2 separate regions of the Homo sapiens genome follow, and region 1 is linked to region 2. The links come from fine-mapping of genetic effects on plasma protein levels. Region 2 holds a variant in brackets. A gene starts in the other region. All regions are shown on one strand. Distances are from middle to middle.

Region 1 (8,317 bases), 76 Mb after region 2:
GTGAGTGTCCCCCCAGCTCAAGGTGCCCGGCACGGTGAGTGTCCCCCCAGCTCCCGGTGCCCGTGGTGAGTGTCCCCCCAGCTCCCGGTGCCCGGCACGGTGAGTGTCCCCCCAGCTCCCGGTGCCCGTCACGGTGAGTGTCCCCCCAGCTCCCGGTGCCCGTCACGGTGAGTGTCCCCCCAGCTCCCGGTGCCCGGCACGGTGAGTGTCCCCCCAGCTCTCGGTGCCCGTGGTGAGTGTCCCCCCAGCTCCCGGTGCCCGGCACGGTGAGTGTCCCCCCAGCTCAAGGTGCCCGGCACGGTGAGTGTCCCCCCAGCTCCCGGTGCCCGGCACGGTTAGTGTTCCCCCAGCTCAAGGTGCCCGGTGCGGTGAGTGTCCCCCCAGCTCAAGGTGCCCGGCACAGACACAGCTCCCACCCGGGCTTGGGGAAAGCACCAGCGTGGGGTCTCCCTGGGGTCCCCTGCCCACAAGGCGCCGGGGCTTACGGCAGAGCGTGGCGGTCCTCCAGTTCCCGGGCCGGCCGCCGGCGTGGGAGCACTGGCGGGAGAACTCGGCCACGGTGCTGCAGACGCAGGTGTCACCGCCCGGGCACCGGCAGCGGTCCTGCTGGCAGGCGCGCAGATACGGCTCCAGCGGCACCAGGTCCTGACAGTCCGCGAAGGCCTCGGCGGTCAGCAGCCTCTCACACTCGGCGCGCTGGGGACAGACGCAGGGTGAGCATGCTATTCAGAGGCCAGCTCCGCCAGGACCCCCACCCCGGACCGAGGGGACTCACGTGCTCGGAGCAGGATGCGGGGGCCACCTCCTCCTCGGGATCCTCACACACCACATCGGGCTGGTTGATCTTCTGCATGTTCCCAAACTCCAGGGGACTGAAGAGCACGCCTGGGGATGCACGGCCCTTCAGCTAGGGCTCCTGGGGGCCCGTAGCCTACCCTGCCCCCTCCAAGCCCTCCGGGCCTCACCGTCAGAGAGGAATTCTGAATAGCTCTGCAGGCCGTTGTAGTCCCCGCAGAGGCCACAGGTGTGGTTCCGGAACTTAGTGTCCAGCTCCAGCTGTTGCGGGAGGGAGCAGGTGAGCTGGCCTCCCGCCCGGCCCACAGCCGCCAGGAACCCCCAAGACTCGTGGCTTGTTTGAGCCAGAGGAAGGTGGGGCAGGAAGGCTGGGGTCAGCAGCCAGGGAGCGGCCTGGCAGGGCAGGTCCCTGAGAAGCCGAGTGCGTTTGGGGGAAGGCTGAGGCCTGGGGGGGTCAGGGCCAGGTCGGCTTCTGCTGCTGCCCCCCAAGTCCAGCACCGACGCCCTGCGCTGCCGAGGCCCTGCCCCACCCATGCCCTCTCGGTGAGGGGTCAGAGCACTGCCCTCCCTGCCCTCCCTTGGGGTCTGCCCAGAGGCCTGACGGAGCCCCCACCAGCCCCACGAGTCCGGGGACCCCTGAGCACCATGAGTGCATCCTCCCGGTTCCACATGAGGGTGAGGCCGGCGCGGGAGTAGACTTTGGTGTAGGCATCGCTCTTCTCAATGAGCAGCCCGGGGCTGTAGTGCGGGGTGCTGACCCTGGCGGAGGCACATCGGGGTCACTCTTGGGTCCACCACCCAGGCCCCCCCGCCCCAGCTTGTCCTCCCGGGACCCCGCCGCCCAGAGGGGACTGAAGCTGGGCACCTGGGGTGGTGGAGATGGCTCTGCCAGGCCCAGCTCCTGCCCTGGGATCACCAACTTGGCCGGCCTCTGGGGTGGAGGGACATAGGCAGTGGCCAAAGAGCACCTGTCCATCTCCGCTGGCCGGGCTTCCCCGGCAGAGCCACCTCCTGCCTGCACGCCCCTCCTCTCCACTCCCTCCTCGGGGCACGGTCCTGGGCAGGGTCCCCCCTCAGAGGCCCTGAGGGCACCAGGTTGGGAGAGGAGGGAGGACCAGGCTGCCCAGCCCCCTTCCAGGCCCCCTGCTTGGTGGAACATCCCCCCATGGGGTCCCAAACCCCCCAGAGCCCCCCAGGCTGCCCCTGAGAACGTCAGGGGCCCTACCCCACCTCCTGCCAGTGCCCCTTGCTGGTCCAGGTAGAGGCACTCACCCCAGCCTCTGTGCCTCGGTCCTCAAGGGCCTCTACCTGCCTGCCCATGCCTGAAAGCCTCTACCCACCCACCTGCCAACACCCATGCCTGAGGGCCCCTACCCACCCACCCGCCTGCGCCCATGCCTGAGGGCCTCTACCCACCCACCTGTGCCATGCCTGAGGGCCTCTACCCACCCACCCACCTGCGCCCACACCTGAGGACCTCTACCCACCCGCCCGCACCTACGCCTGACGGCCTCTATCCACCCACCCGCGCCCACGCCTGAGGGCCTCTACCCACCCACCCGCCTGCACCCATGCCTGAGGGCCTCTACCCACCCACCCGCGCCCACACCTGACGGCCTCTACCCACCCACCTGCCCATGCCCACACCTGAGGACCTCTACCCACCCGCCTGCACCCATGCCTGACGGCTTCTATCCACCCACCCGCCCGCACTCACGCCTGAGGGCCTCTACCCACCCGCCTGCCCATGCCCATGCCTGAGGGCCTCCACCCGCCTGCCCATGCCCATGCTGGGGCGCCTTGCAGGAAACTAAATCCCCAGGCAGAAGAGGGGCAGGCGCTGGATGGGAACGCACTTACAGGGCCTCATTGTTCTGGAGACAATAGGGGAGCAATAGCTGGGGATGGGGAAGGGGGTCCCACAGCCCCCTGCACCGGCTTCTGTAACTCTAGCCTGGGGAGGGCACACACGGCCACTCCATGCACAGGACCAGAGACATGCAGCCTCCAGGGGTGCCAAGTCTGTCCGGAGCCTGGTGGGCTCCGAGGGGAGGGGCTGTCAGGGACACACAGGCAAAGGGATAACTGAAACCCCTTGCCTATGGGGGGAATGGTGGGGGCTCATCAGTGTTTGTTGAATGAATTAGTGACCTGAACCCAAACCTCAAGGCTGTTCTCCTGAGCTGTGTGCTGGGGCGGAAGGGGTCTTCTAGGGCTACAAGGAATATCCCTTTGGGAAACATCAGCCCCCGTTGCTAGGATGTGGGAGGGGTGCCACCGACCACACTCACACGGCCCCGTTAAGCACAGCCAGGTGGCGGGTGAGGTAGATGGTGTCATCCTTGATGGTCAGCAGGATGGACTCCACCCCGGCGGGGGCCTCAGCCTGGCCCGGACCCCGCTTCAGGTGCACAGCAAATTCCTTGTAGGAGCCTCGGCAGTCGGAGGCGAAGTTGTAGTCGCAGGGGCCGGGGAAGCGGAAGACGTCCCCGTCGAAGGTCTTGTAGTGGAAGTTGCCCCAGGTGCTGCAGACGTTGTGGCCGTGGTTTCGGGTTCTGCCCTCTGAGGGAGCAGCGGGGAATGAGGGGTGAGTGGCCCCGGAGGGGGAAGGCTGCCCAAGCTACCCTCGAGAGAAGGCCCCTGAAGAAGCACCTGGAAGCAGCTTCGAGCCCAGCACAGGGCCCCTGGCCGGGAAAGGTTCCTTCCTATCCTCGGGCCCTCTGCTGGGCCTTGGTCACCCCACCACAGGGGTCTCAGGGCTTCTACCCCCGGCCTGGTGAGGAGTGCGGCCGGGTGCCAAGCGGGATGTAGGAGAGGGCATTCTGGGCACCCCGCTCCCCAGCAAGGGCTGTGCTGCCCCAACTCTTCAAGGGTCTCTGCCACCTGAGAATGGGGCCTTCTGGTGGGATCCTGGCCACCCCTTCCTCCCCTATGGACAATGACCCAGTTCACTGGGGCCTGACCTGCTGTTTCCACCTGGTGCTGGCCCCAAGACCCACACTGTCGTCGGGCAGTCAACCCCAAAGGAATAGCAGGGGAGCCCCGACCTTCCAGCTCCTTGAAAGTCAGCAGGGCCGGGGGCTTCCAGGGACCAACCCGGGCCAGGAGCCTCAGCAGAGCCGCGCAGGCTGCACTCTGGGACCAGCTCCTCCTCCCAGACGCGACTTGCCCGCCCGCCTCGCCCTGCCCCCAGGACACTCTGCCAGGCCCCAGACCCCTGTGTCTGCTCTCTCACCTGTCTGGAGCTCCGAGCCCCCTGCCAAAGACAGGGCCAGGCACACAGCCGCCAGGCGGGCTAGTGGCAGCCCCATGGTGGCTGGCAGGGGCGGTGTGGGTTGCGCCCGGGGGCAGGGGTCTGGTCCTTATATGTCCTGGCAGGAGGGTAGGAGGGCAGGAAGGCAGGGGAGGGCCAAGGGTGGGTGTGGCATCTGCCAGATGATCAAGAAGACAGCTGCGGGGGCCCGAGCCCCAATGGGGAAATATTGATTCAGGTTATCGGAGGTCATCTCTTTATGGCTCCCTGGGTAAACGCAGCCTTCTTCAGGATGAGGCAGCCCTGTAGCCTGAATGCCAACACACACCCGGGGAACACATGCAGCTACTAGAGGGGCGAGCCCAGGGTGGCCGGGGGAGGGGTGTCCTGCCAGAAGCAAGTCTGGTCAGGCTCCTTAGCCCGCCATGGGCCCCCAGACACCCGCTGAGCAGGTCCCCAGGCCTGATCAGGCTCACGTTACGCTGGGAGGACCAACCCATTCCTGGGGCCCAAGCTCTGGGGCAGCTTCCAGGCCTGACCCCAGAAAGGGGCCTCCCCGAGGGCAGGGAGGATGTGGGATCCTTCAGGGTCCGGGGGGGCCACTGACTTGTGTGGGACTCTTGGCCGGGCTCATGGAGCTGTGTCAGAGGCCCCAGCCCCCAACCACCCCCTATGCCCATCCTTTTCCCAGGCTGAGCCCTTCTCTGCAGTTACATGTAATTAGAACTTGGGGAGTACATGCCCAGCCAGGGGACATGTTACGGAATCAGGCACACAGGGAGCTGGCTGGTGGCCGGAAGTGGCCGTCTGCCCCTTCTCCTGGGGACCACATGAGGACCTCGGGCCTGACAGCTGAGGAGGTGACAGCCTGCCCAGGCTCCCCAGAACTACCTCTGACTCATGGTGGGGATCCTGCCCCCAAGGCTGTGCCTTTGATGAGCCTTGGTCTCGCCCACCAATCCCAGCAGTTGTCTGGAAAAAAGCCTGGAGAACCGGAACTCACACCGACCCCAGACTACGAGACCACTGGGCCCACCACTGCTTGCCCCGGCCCGGGAGGGCACAGGCAGGCACCCCTGTGTCGCCAGTGGGTAAACTGAGGTCTGGGGGCCCTCCCCTCTCTCTACAATTTTCTCCTCCTGAAAATAGAGAGGGGCCCTGAGTTGAGTTCCTGGCTTTGGCCTGAACATGCCAGGGACATGCCGGCAGCATGATGGCAGTGGGGAGGGACTCACCCCAACAGTTATAGAGACTCGGGGCCCAAAGCACCAAGCCTGTTTCCCTGGCTGACCTGCTGCCCAGACCCAGGGCCTGGGACGAAGCCCCTCCCGCCCTCCTGCGGTGCCCGCCAGCACCAGGCCCCAGGGTCTGCGCTCCCTGCCAGGACCTGGGCACGTGGAGGAAGCTCAGTGTGTGGCCCCTGCCAGGAGGACCGGGGATTAGGAAACCAGAGCCAGCTGGGCGAGGCCAGAGGAGATCATTGTTCACTTCCTGGTGTGGGCCTCCGCACACTGGCACTGAGCCCTGGGGAAACCCAAGGACGGCCCCAACTGCAGTCCCCTGACCCTGACATGCCCCAGGCGGGCCTCAGGACAGAGATTTTCCAGGCCAGGCTCCCCCTGCCCTGGGGGGATTGGAGGAATCCTAGCGGAGCACAAGCTGCCCAGCACAGCCCCTCCAGCCCTGAAGCCTGAGGTAGGTCCCCTAGATCTGACCCTGTGTCCCCTCTGGACGGGCAGTGGTGGTTCCCAGGCTCAGGGGTCTGACCCCAACACCCCTCTTGGCCCATGGCAAGGTCCCAGGTAGGAGCCCTGTCTGAGGTTACAGGCAGCCCTGCATGGGGCAGGGTGCAGAGAGCTGAACCCCATTCCTAACGGGGAAAGGGAGCTGTTCTGGGGAAGAGGACAGTGAGGGCTCCATCAGGCCGGGGCGACTATGGAGTCACTGGCACCCCCAAAGCGAGAGTGTCCCCAGCCTCTTTGCCTCCAAGCCTCAGCCGGTCCCCACTGCCAGATTCGCAGCATCTACTGTGGTGGTGGAGGCGATGGGGGCCAGGCAGTTCCACAGCACTGCATCCCCTCTCTCCCCACGTCCTGTGTTGGTCCAAATGTGGCCCCCATTGCTGGTTACTGAAATGTCGGCCTCCAGCAAGTGCAGAGTGGGAGAGTGGGCAGCCGTATTGCCCTGGGACCCCATCGCCACTCTGTGGCTTTCCCATGGGGTTCGAGGGACCCTGGTGGAGGGAGAGAGTGGGGGCTTTGACCACTCCGAGGAAAATGCTTGTCGGTTCTGCTTTCTGTGACAAGAACATGATGGCAGTGGTGGGAATGACCACCCACCCAACGGCGGGCCGGACACAGTTGAGCCAGGAGCCCACATCCCCAGCCCCATGTCAGGCTGCCCCAGCCTCAGGCCCCGGCTGGGACTCAGAACGAGGCTGCATGGAGTACAGCCTCCCACACAGACAGCATCCTGGAGTACAGCCTCCCACACAGACAGCATCCTGGAGTACAGCTTCCCACACAGACAGCATCCTGGCCCCCCCAGCCTCTCCCCACCCTGCCCACGCCCAACATGTTTACCGTGACAAGACACTGTTGCCAACGGCTGCATGGAATTTGCAGTAGTGACTGCAGGGAGGAGGCAGCACTGACGTCACATGGCACCTGAAGTGACGGCCCCCCTACTGTGTATCCACAAACCTGACTCACCAGGAAGCCCGGGTGAGGGGCATGTGGGGGTCAGAGCCACCGGAGGAAGAGGGAGAGGGAAAGGAGGAGGAGGAAGGGGAAGGGGAAGAGGAGGCTGGGGAGGGGGCGAGAAGAGAGAACCCCTATGCTGCTGGGGGAGCCAAAGACAGCAGGTGCGTCCCCTGCACACGTCCCGGTCGCTCGAACGGTGGCTTTGTGAGTCGGCCTGTCTGGCCATGGCTCCAGTCTTTGGCATGGCGCCGGGCTGGATGCTGCTGTGAAGGGACTTCTTAAATGTGACCCTGGCGAAGCAGGTGGGTCTGACACAATCAGTGCAGGGCCTTGAAAGAAAAGACCTTGGTCCTCCAAGGAGCAGGACGTGCTGCCTCCAGGACGTGCTGCCTCCTGATGGCCTCCGGGGGTCTCCAGCCTGAGGCCCACCCTAGGCTGCCTGAAGTAATGGCCCATGCCCCACTGATTGCTTCCCTGGAGTATCACCACCCACCCCCGCAAGCACTCCCCATGTGGCCAATACCTCTCCCACGGGGGCGGGAGACCAGTCACAGAGCCTGCTTTCCTGGAGAGCACTCCACCCGCCCACACCGCAGCCCTAGGTATCCCCACGTGGCAGCCCCTGTCTCCCTACATCCTGTGTTGGTCCAAACGTGGCCCCCATTGCTGATTACTGAAATGTCGGCCTCCAGCAAGTGCAGGCTGCCCACATGTCAGTCACATGTGTCATCTGGGGCCATTTTTCCATGTCCCTATGTGGTTGGTCTGATTATTAGCTCACATTACAGAAGGGGAAACTGAGTCACCGAGCATCTTGTGTCTCCATCTCAAGGCCAGCATCTCAGGACACAAGAGGCCAGGCTGGCCCACACCCATTCTGCAGGCCAGAGCCATCCTGCCACAGCCAACCCTGCCAGCACCAGGCTGCCCAGCCCCCAGCCAACTGGGCTTAACCAGGGTGGTGGGGGCTGGCACCCAACCCCAGCGCCACAGCTCTGGCCCTGCCTTGGTGGGCAGATGGAGAGCACACCCAGAGAAGCCGTGGTTCTCAGCCCTCTGGACACCAAGGAGGACCCCAGCTCCAACCCCAGCCCCACACAGGGACACAGTGGCAAGGCCCAGACCTACACCCTGGCAGGTGAGCATCTGAGGATTCAAGGGAGGGCAAATAAAACACCAGTCACGTCCAGCTCTCCAGGGCAGACTCAGACACCCCAAGCATGTCCACTTTCTGGGGCTCCAAAGGTTCGGAGACACCTGGAGGTGTGCACTTCACCTCCCAAGGACTGCAGAGGTGAAAGGCGGGATGTTGGTGCCACTGCTCTGTGAGGTGTGGAGGGTGAGCAAGTGAGCACACAGAGGCGTTTGTTCTCAGGTGAGGGATCAAGAGAGGCCTCAACCAGTCCAGGCCTCTGCTGGGCAGGCGGGCACTGGGCAGGCTCCATTGAGGAAAGGGCAGCCCAGGGCCAGGGCCATCAGGTGGATAGCTGTGCTTCAGGAGTCCAGACACCCTGGGGCACTTGCCCCTCAAGACTTGGTCCAGGTGTCACATCCTCACACTGAACAC
Region 2 (8,317 bases):
ACCTGTGACTGATGCATGTTACATAAGAATGTTACATGTGGCATGTCACCATGTTACATGGCAAAGAGAAGTAAGGTTGGAGGTAGAATGAAGGTTGCTCATCAGCTGACTTTAAGATAGGAAAAGAATCCCAGGTTATCTAGGTAGGCCCAGTGTAGTTACAGGGTCCTTGGAAGTGGAAGGAGAAGGCAGGAAAGTCAGAGAGTGATGTGGCTGTGGAAGCAACGCACCAAGAGCCGCCACATGGTCGGTTTTGGAGATGGAGGAAGGAGGTCTCTGCAAGCTGGAAAAGGCAAAGAAATGGATCCTTCCCTAGCACCTCCAGTAAGGAGTGCAGTTGGTGGGTAGAGCTGTAGGGTAACAGATGAGTGTGCTTTTAAGCCAAGCTTGTGGGAATTTGTTACAGCAGCAATAGGGAACTAGTACAGTATCCTAACACAGGGGTCCCCAATCCCTGGGCCAATGACCGGTATTGGTTGTGGCCTGTTAGGAACCGGGCTGCACAGCGGCAGGTGAGCAAAGCTTCATTTGTAATTTATAGTTGCTCCCTATCGCGTGCATTACCACCTCAGCTCCGCCTCCTGTCAGATCAACGACAGCATTAGATTCTCATAGTAGCATGAACCCTATTGTGAACTGCGCATGTGAGGGATCTAGGTCGCCTGCTCCTTATGAGAATCTACTGCCTGATAATCTATCACTGTCTCCTATCACCCCCGATGGGACTGTCTAGTTGCAGGAAAACAAGCTCAGGGTTTCCACTGATTTTACATTATGGTGAGTTGTATAATTATTTCATTATATATTACCATGTAATAATAATAGAAATAAAGTGCACAATAAATGTAATGCACTTGAATCTTCCCCAAACCATCCCCCACGTTGGTCTGTGGAAATATTGTCTTCCACAAAACCAGTCCTTGGTGCCAAAAAGGTTGGGGACTGCTGTCCTAACAGATACAGTCCACATCACTGGGACAGATGGCACTCATCCACTCATCCATTCACCCCAAAAGCATGTAGGAGTATTTGTTATGGCCTGCTCAGAAAATAGATCAGCAAGTGACAAGTGGCTGTGGCTACTGAAGGCCCACGGCAAGGGCTGCAGAAAGGTCACAGAAGTGCCACCTCCTCCTGCTTCCTTCAACCTCTCAGAGCTGCCAGTAAGCCTGCAGAATGACAGTACCCTCCTATGTGGTTTACAGAGGATTTACATGGCCCTGGCATGGAACATCACTGTGGAAAGTGTATTAGTCCATTTTCACACTCCTATAAAGAATACTACCTGAGACTGTGTAATTATAAAAGAAAGAGGTTTAATTGACTCACAGTTCTGCAGATTTAACAGGAAGCATGGCTAGGAGGCCTCAGGAAACTTACAATCATGGCGGAAGGCGAAGGGAAAGCAGACACCTTCTTCATGGGCAGCAGGAGGGCGTGTGTGCGAGAATGAGGAAGTGCCGCGCTTTAAAACCATCACCTCTCGCGAGAACTCACTATCACGACAAGAACGTGAGGGAATCCGACCCCGTGATCCAATCACCTCCCGCCTGTCCAGTCCTACGTGTCCCTCCCCTGACATGTGGGAATTACAATTCAAGATGAGATTTGGGTGGGGAAACAGAGCCAAATCTTATCAGAAAGAGCGGCTCAGAGAGGTGAGATGACCTACTCAAGTTCCAGGAGTGGGAGTGATGGGACTTGCCACGGATTCCCTCTGTGTAAATCTGTGACAGCCCTGATGTAAATCAGACATGGCCTCTCCCTCTGGGAGCAGCCAGTCTACTTGGTGAAAAACAAGGGATGAAAGGGGACACAGCAGGTGACTTAAGTGCTATGGTTGGAATGTTTATGTTTCCCCGGAATTCTTTTTTTTTTTTTTTTTTTTGAGACAGAGTCTTGCTCTGTCGCCCAGGCTGGAGTGCAGTGGCGTGATCTTGGCTCACTGGAAGCTCCGCCTCCCAGGTTCACGCCATTCTCCTGCCTCAGCCTCCCGAGTAGCTGGGACTACAGGTGCCTGCCACCATGCCCGGTTAATTTTTTTGTATTTTTAGTAGAGACGGGGTTTCACTGTGTTAGCCAGGATGGTCTCTATCTCCTGACCTCGTGATCTGCCCGCCTCAGCCTCCCAAAGTGCTGGGATTACAGGCGTGAGTCACCACACCCGGCCCCCCGGAATTCTTACGTTGAAATCCTAGCCCTGAAGGTGACGTGGTGATGATGTGATGATGGCAGAACCCTCACCAATGGAATCTGGGCCGCTGTAAAAGAGGCCGTGGGAGCTTGCTTGCCCCTCCCACCATGCAGTGACACAGCAAGAAGGCAGTGAGGAATGGGCCCTCGCCAGACACCAAACCTGCTGGGACCTTGACCTTAGACTTCCCAGCCTCCAGAACTTTCAGAAATGTTTGTAAGACACCCAGTTTATGGTATTTTTGTTACAGCAGCCTGAACAGACTAAAACACTAGCAGGGCAAGGCTGCTGTAACAGTAGACAAACCCCAGAAGCTGAAAAATCATAAAAGTTTTTGTCTATATTGTTCTGTCCATAATTTTTTTTAAAAGCATAAAAGTTTATTTTGTCTTCCTCAGTAGTCTGAACTGAGTATTCCAGGTTGGTCCCCGGGCTGCTCTGCTCCGTGCAGGAACTCAGGAATCCTCGTTTCTCTGCCTTCCTCTAGGCCAGCGGTTCTCTGCTAGGGTGAATTTTCCCACCAGGGTATGTTTGGCAACGTCTGGAGATACTTTGGGTGTCATGACTTGGGCTGTGATACTGGTATCTAGTGAGTGGAGGACATGGATGCTGCTGAATGTTTTACAATGCACGGGACTGCCCCCCACAACAAAGAACCGTCCTGCCCCAAATGTCAGTAGTTGAGAAACTTCCACTTGGGCCTGAAGCATTGTCCTCACTTGCAAAGTCAGAGCTGGGTCCCAGGCCCATCCATGTTCCAGCGAATGGGAAGGAGGAAGAGAGCATAAGCAGGCCCAGGTGCCACAGTGATCCTCATCCACTCCCGTCCATCCATGAGGGCCTAGTCACAGGGCCACATCTAACTTCAGGGGACGGAGTGCTGGGAAATGGAGTCTAGGTGAGTGCCCAGGAGGAAGGGAACAGCCGACTCAGGTGGGCAGCTGGCAGCTTCCCCGACAGGCGTCCTAACTGGTGCAAGAGACATGCAGGATGGAGGTGGTTGGAGGACATTTCGGTAACTAGGTCAGAGCTTGTGCAAAATGCAGAGACAAGAGAGAGCCTGACAAAGCGCAGGCACTGCCACCTGGATGGAGGCTGACAGTGGGAGGGAGGGATCAGTGAGCAGCAGGCGGGTGGCAGGAGCCTGAAATGCAGGACTGAGGAGTCTAGTCTTCGTCCTGAAGGCAGGGAAGGACCTTTGGCCAGTCTCCTGACGTTCTGCCCCGGCTCTTTCCTCCCTGAAGGTGAGTCCCTCGTGTCCATCTTACATAGTTGGGACCTTGCTGACACACACTTCTGCCTGCCTTTAGGCCGTTTCCTTGATTTTCTATGTTGCCAAGATGACTGGCAGCTGCTGGAGGTCAGGACCACAGCCTGGTTCTCAGAGCCCCAGGCACCAAGTTCCCACCCACCCTTGCAAACTCTCCTTTTTTTTTTTTTTTTTGAGATGCAGTCTTGCTCTGTCGCCCAGGCTGGAGTGCAGTGGCACGATCTCGGCTCACTGCAACCTCCGCCTCCCAGGTTCAAGTGATTCTCCTGCCTCAGCCTCCCAAATAGCTGAGATTACAGGCACGAGCCACTATGGCCGGCTAATTTTTGTACTCCCAATAGAGACGGGGTTTCACCATATTGGCCAGGCTGGTCTCGAACTCTTGACCTCATGATCCGACCTCCTCAGCCTCCCAAAGTGCTGGGATTACAGGCGTGAGCCACCTCGCCCGGCCCCACAATCTTAACCACTGTCCACTTCGGTCTCAGATCCCCCACCTCCCGAACACAATTCTACACACCTGCCTCCACAGGCTCCCCAACACTGGCCTCCATGTTCCCACCAGCCTTTCTCCACTTCGGACTCCCCGGAACTCCCTGCTGGGTTGTCCAAGGCCCACTGAGCCTGAGGCCCAGACCCCGGCAAGGAGCCTGTCTCTGACCCGTGGGGGTGATTATTGGCGGGCAGGACCCAACTAGGCCATTAGCTTTGGTTGGGGTGAGTGTGGAGGGGACCACAGTGGTGTGCTGTCTGGGAATGCCACGGCCCTGGATTAGTCACTGTCTGACCGGGCCTCTGGTTTCCACTTTGCACGGTGAAGATTTCTACCTCACGGTGTACTGGGGTAGTGGTGGGAAGAAGGCCACCACATGCGCCTCAGCTGCGTGTTGGCTGACTTCTTGGGGGAGGGGGAAGCGGGATCCACCTGATACTGTCAGCCCAGCTCCAGCTCCACTCACTTGTAAACAGTGGAAATCACAACTGACATTTGTAGGCACATGGCAGGGGGCGCTGATCCTGGCTCCCACGCTCCCAGGTCTCCCTTGCTCCACTGCTCAAGAGGACCCGAGTGTGGGAGCGAGGGGCCCGGAATTCTTGCAGAGAGGGCGGTGGAGCTGGCTTTGCGAGGATGAAGAGATAGTCTAGCCGAGTGGTCCTCAGGCCTAGCTGCACATTCGCATCACTGGAGGAACTTAAAAAATACTTAACATGTCTGGGTCCACCCCAGACTAATCAAATCGAAACTTCGGGAGATGGAGCCAGGATGTAGGCATTTTCCACACCCCCCACCCCAGCTGATTTCAGTGCGCAGCTGGGGTTCAGGTGCACAGAGCTGGGCAGGACGTAAGGTACCCAGAGCGGGAAAGCTGCCTTCTCAGCATGGACATGGTTGGAGGCCCGGGGCTGAAGCCGCCCAACTGGCCTCAGGAGACCCGGTGTCCCCGGTCACAGCTGAGCGCGGGGCTGTGCAGCGCCTTCCACATGAGCAGCATCTCGTAGGGCGCGAAGCGGTGCACTAGCAGCAACTCGCGGTACATGCAGGGGTCGAAGGAGGACTGCTGTGCGCCAGGCAGCTGCACGCCGAAGGG[T/C]CGGATGCCCTCGTGGCCGCTGGGCGCCAGGCCGGCGCGCTCCAGACACATGCCCATGTAGGCGTCGTCGATGGGGAAGAGCGGGGTGTGGCGGGCGGCCGCGCGCAGGGCCCGGGCCGTGGGGCCGGACAGGAGGAAGCCGCCGCCGCTGCAGTACACCGGGTAAGCGGACCCGGGGAAGAGCTGCGGCGGCACGAAGTACTTGCTCCAGCTGTCGCGGATGGGCACGGAGCCCTCCATGAGCTGGCCGGAGAACAGGTGGCGGCCGGGTGGCTGCGCCTGCAGGAAGCGGACTACGTTGGCGGTGTGCACGAACACGTCGTCGTCGCCGCTGAGCAGAAAGCGCGCGTGCGGGCAGCGTGCAGCCAGCCAGTCGAGCAAGTGCAGGTGCTTGAGCGTGAGGTTGAGGAAGGTGTCCGCGAAGGCCCACTGCAGCACGTCGCCGTGCTCGCGCGCCTCCAGCGCCACCAGCTCCGCCAGCCGCTCCGCGCGCGCCTCGTCCTCGGGGCCCGGGGTGCCCAATAGAAAGAGGCGGCGCACTGGCCGCCCGCCGTAGCTGCGCTCTTGCCCCCACGTGCGCCGGATGAGCTCGCGTCGCTCGTAGTGCTCAGGCGCCGACTTCACCGCCAGGAGCAGGAACACGCCTCGGCCGCCGGCGCACTTGGCCGGTGCGTCCCAAAGCAGCGGGAAGTGGCGGCAGTGGCGGTACCGCAGGAAGTCCTGGATGCGCGCGGGCAGCTGCTCGAAGTCGGCCGTGGCGTTCGCCGAGGCGTTCGCCACGCACGGGGGCCCGGGGACGAGCTCCGAGGGCGGCTCGTCAGCCGCGGGAGCGTCGGTGGGACCCTCTGGCGTCTCCTCCTGCGGGGACCTCTCCTCCCGCGGGGACCTTGGCGCCTGGAGGAACCACTGCTGCAGTGCTAAGAAACTCACGCCCACCAGGAGGCAGGCCAGAGTCTTGGCAGTCAGGGACCTGCGGCAGGGAAAAGCCATCTGTGGGGGAAACCGAGTCAGAGGTGAGCCGGAAGTCGTCTTTGACACCGGCAGGACACCACCCGTACCCCGTCACTTCTCTCCCAGAACCCAGCTCCAGCCCCTTCTCAACTCTGCTGTTAAGTGGTAAAAAGGAATCAAAATCCAAGATTACACTGACGGTCTCTGGTCTCCCACACTCCGGACCGTTCCTCTGACCTTCAGATTTGAGTCTCTCTTTGCCTCCTGACAACACCGCCCCACAACCCGTCACATAGGCCCAGTGGACTCATCGTCTGAGTCTCCATCTTCCCCTGAACCCATACCCTGCTGTTCCCACCTCCGTTCACCTGACTACTCCAGCCAGAAGCCCCAGCCTTCTTCCTTGTCCTTCTCAGCTGCTACCTGCTCTCCGCATCCTGTTGATTCTGCGCCCTACATCCCTCTCATTTATTCCCTCCTCTCCGCCTCTGTCCAGCTCGGATCATCTCTAATCACTTCCCCTCGTTGCCTCCCGAGTCGAGGAAGCATGAGGTGATAGCACTGAACTCAGACCCAGAGCCGAATTCTGCCATCCCCACTTCCCCATCTGCACCGTCTGAACAGTCAGTTCCGATGGCTGGGTCTGAGTGTTCTCATCTGTGACGAAGGGTTAGTGAATTCCTACTGCAGGGCTGTTGTGAGCATGAAATGAGTATGAAGTGGCCAGTGACTGGGTGACACGGGTGATATGACCTTATGGGTGAGATGATCTCCACGGCATCCTCTAGCTCTGCCTCCTCATTCTACCTGCTGGTATTATTTGCTGTTCCCAAACATTCACCTTCAGGCCCTCTCCTGCATGTAGCCTGCCCAGGTGCACCTCAGGCCTGGCTTTTATGAAGACCCCCAGGACGAATCCCAGGTCAGAACAACCTTTCCCGTATTTAACTGTGCCCTGCTAAAAATTCAGTCACATCAGGTTCTGCATCTCAGACCGTTGGCTATTTATTTATTTGAGACAGGGTCTTGCTGTGTCACCCAGGCTGGAGTGCAGTGACACCATCATGACTCACTGCAGTCTTGACCACCTAGGCTCAAGCAGTCCTCCCACTTCAGCTTTTGGAGTAGTTGAGGCGCTCTACAGGAGCGTGCCACCACACCTGGGTCATTAAATTTTTTTTTTTTTTTTTTTCTGTAGAGACGGGTTCCCACTATATTGCCCAGTCTGGTCTTGAACTCCTGGGTTCAAGTGATCCTCCCACCTCAGCCCCGAAAAGTGCTGGGATTACAGGCATGAGCCACTGTGCCCCGTTCCTTCTCCCTCCTTAAAACAGACTCTACGCTCTCCTGCCTTTCCTCCTTTCTTTTTGACCATGTTTCTCAGTTCCCTTTGCTCAGTTCCCCCTCTCTAATAACCTCCTCCTCCTCTTCCCCCTCCCCCTCCCCTCCTCCTCCCCCTCCTCCCTCCTCTATCCTCCCTTCTCTCCCTCCCCCTCCTCCTCCCCCTCATCCCCTCCCCCTCATCCCCTCCCACTCATTCCCCTCCCATCCTATCCCTCTCCTCCCCCTCCTCCCATATCCCCCTCCTCCCCCTCCTCCTCCCTCTTCCCCCTCCCCTTCCCCCCTCCTCTTCTTCTTCTTCTTCTTCTTTCTTCCTTTCTCCTTCTTCTTTTTTTTTGAGACAGGGTCAGACTCTGTCACCTAGGCTGGAATGCAGTGGTGTGATCGTGGCTCACTGCAGTCCGCACTTCCCAGGCTCAGGTGATCCTCCCACCTCAGCCTCCCAAATAGCTGGGACCACAGGCATGTGCCACAGTGCTTGGCTAATTTTTTCTATTTTTTGTAGAGACAGTGTCTTGCCATATTGTCCAGGCTTGAGCTCAAACTCTTGGGCTCAAGTGATCCTCCCGCCTTGGCTTCCCAAAGTGCTGGGATTACAGGTGTGAGCCACCGCACCTGACCTCTCTAATAATAACCTTTAATAGTGGAAGGCCTCTAGGGCTCTGACTTAGACACTCATTTCACCTTTGTCCAAGATGGTCTCCTTCACTGTTAGGACCTCCGAGCTCCAGAGCCACATGTCCATCCAGCCGCCTGACTTAACAGCTCCATATGGCTGTCCACAGCCACCTTGGATGCTACTTGAACTCTCATCTTCCTCCCCCAAGCTGTCCCGGAGTGCTGCCATCCCCTGGGTTGTTCAAGCCCAAAACCTTGCTTGACTCCCTCCTTCCCCTCGTTTCCCCACCCAAGCCCCGTTGATTCTCTCTTCTGCATTTTTCATCAACCTACCTGCTTTCATTCCCTCTATCA

Direction of the effects. Alleles are on the strand shown, and positions count from the first base shown. The strength of an association depends on the size of the effect and on how common the allele is.
With allele C in place of T in region 2, the plasma level of the protein whose gene starts at base 4,134 in region 1 is higher (strong association).

The links. PIP is the chance, under the fine-mapping model, that this variant and not a neighbour inherited with it causes the effect. The UK Biobank Pharma Proteomics Project read protein levels with antibody pairs (Olink). The fine-mapping took linkage between variants from a reference panel, not from the people measured, so its PIPs are less certain.
Region 1: MUC2 starts here. The variant in region 2 is fine-mapped to the plasma level of the MUC2 protein (UK Biobank, PIP above 0.99).

What each region holds. Positions count from the first base shown.
Region 1 is chr11:1,070,691-1,079,007 of GRCh38, reverse strand. MUC2 (mucin 2, oligomeric mucus/gel-forming) reads right to left here and starts at 4,134. Exons shown (of 58, transcript NM_002457.5): 1 at 4,031-4,134; 2 at 3,087-3,357; 3 at 1,440-1,554; 4 at 966-1,056; 5 at 776-885; 6 at 486-696. The coding sequence starts at 4,106. LOC107987157 (a long non-coding RNA gene) reads left to right here and starts at 5,574. Exons shown (of 5, transcript XR_007062544.1): 1 at 5,574-5,743; 2 at 7,583-7,888. RefSeq lists enhancers at 120-661, 687-1,187.
Region 2 is chr11:77,037,278-77,045,594 of GRCh38, reverse strand. It overlaps B3GNT6 (UDP-GlcNAc:betaGal beta-1,3-N-acetylglucosaminyltransferase 6), which reads right to left. Exons shown (of 2, transcript NM_138706.5): 2 at 3,622-6,043. The coding sequence starts at 6,043. The coding sequence ends at 4,889. Among named protein-coding and RNA genes, the nearest start is that of ACER3-AS1, 5.8 kb to the right of the region's middle. The variant T/C (reference allele first, on the strand shown) is at 5,054.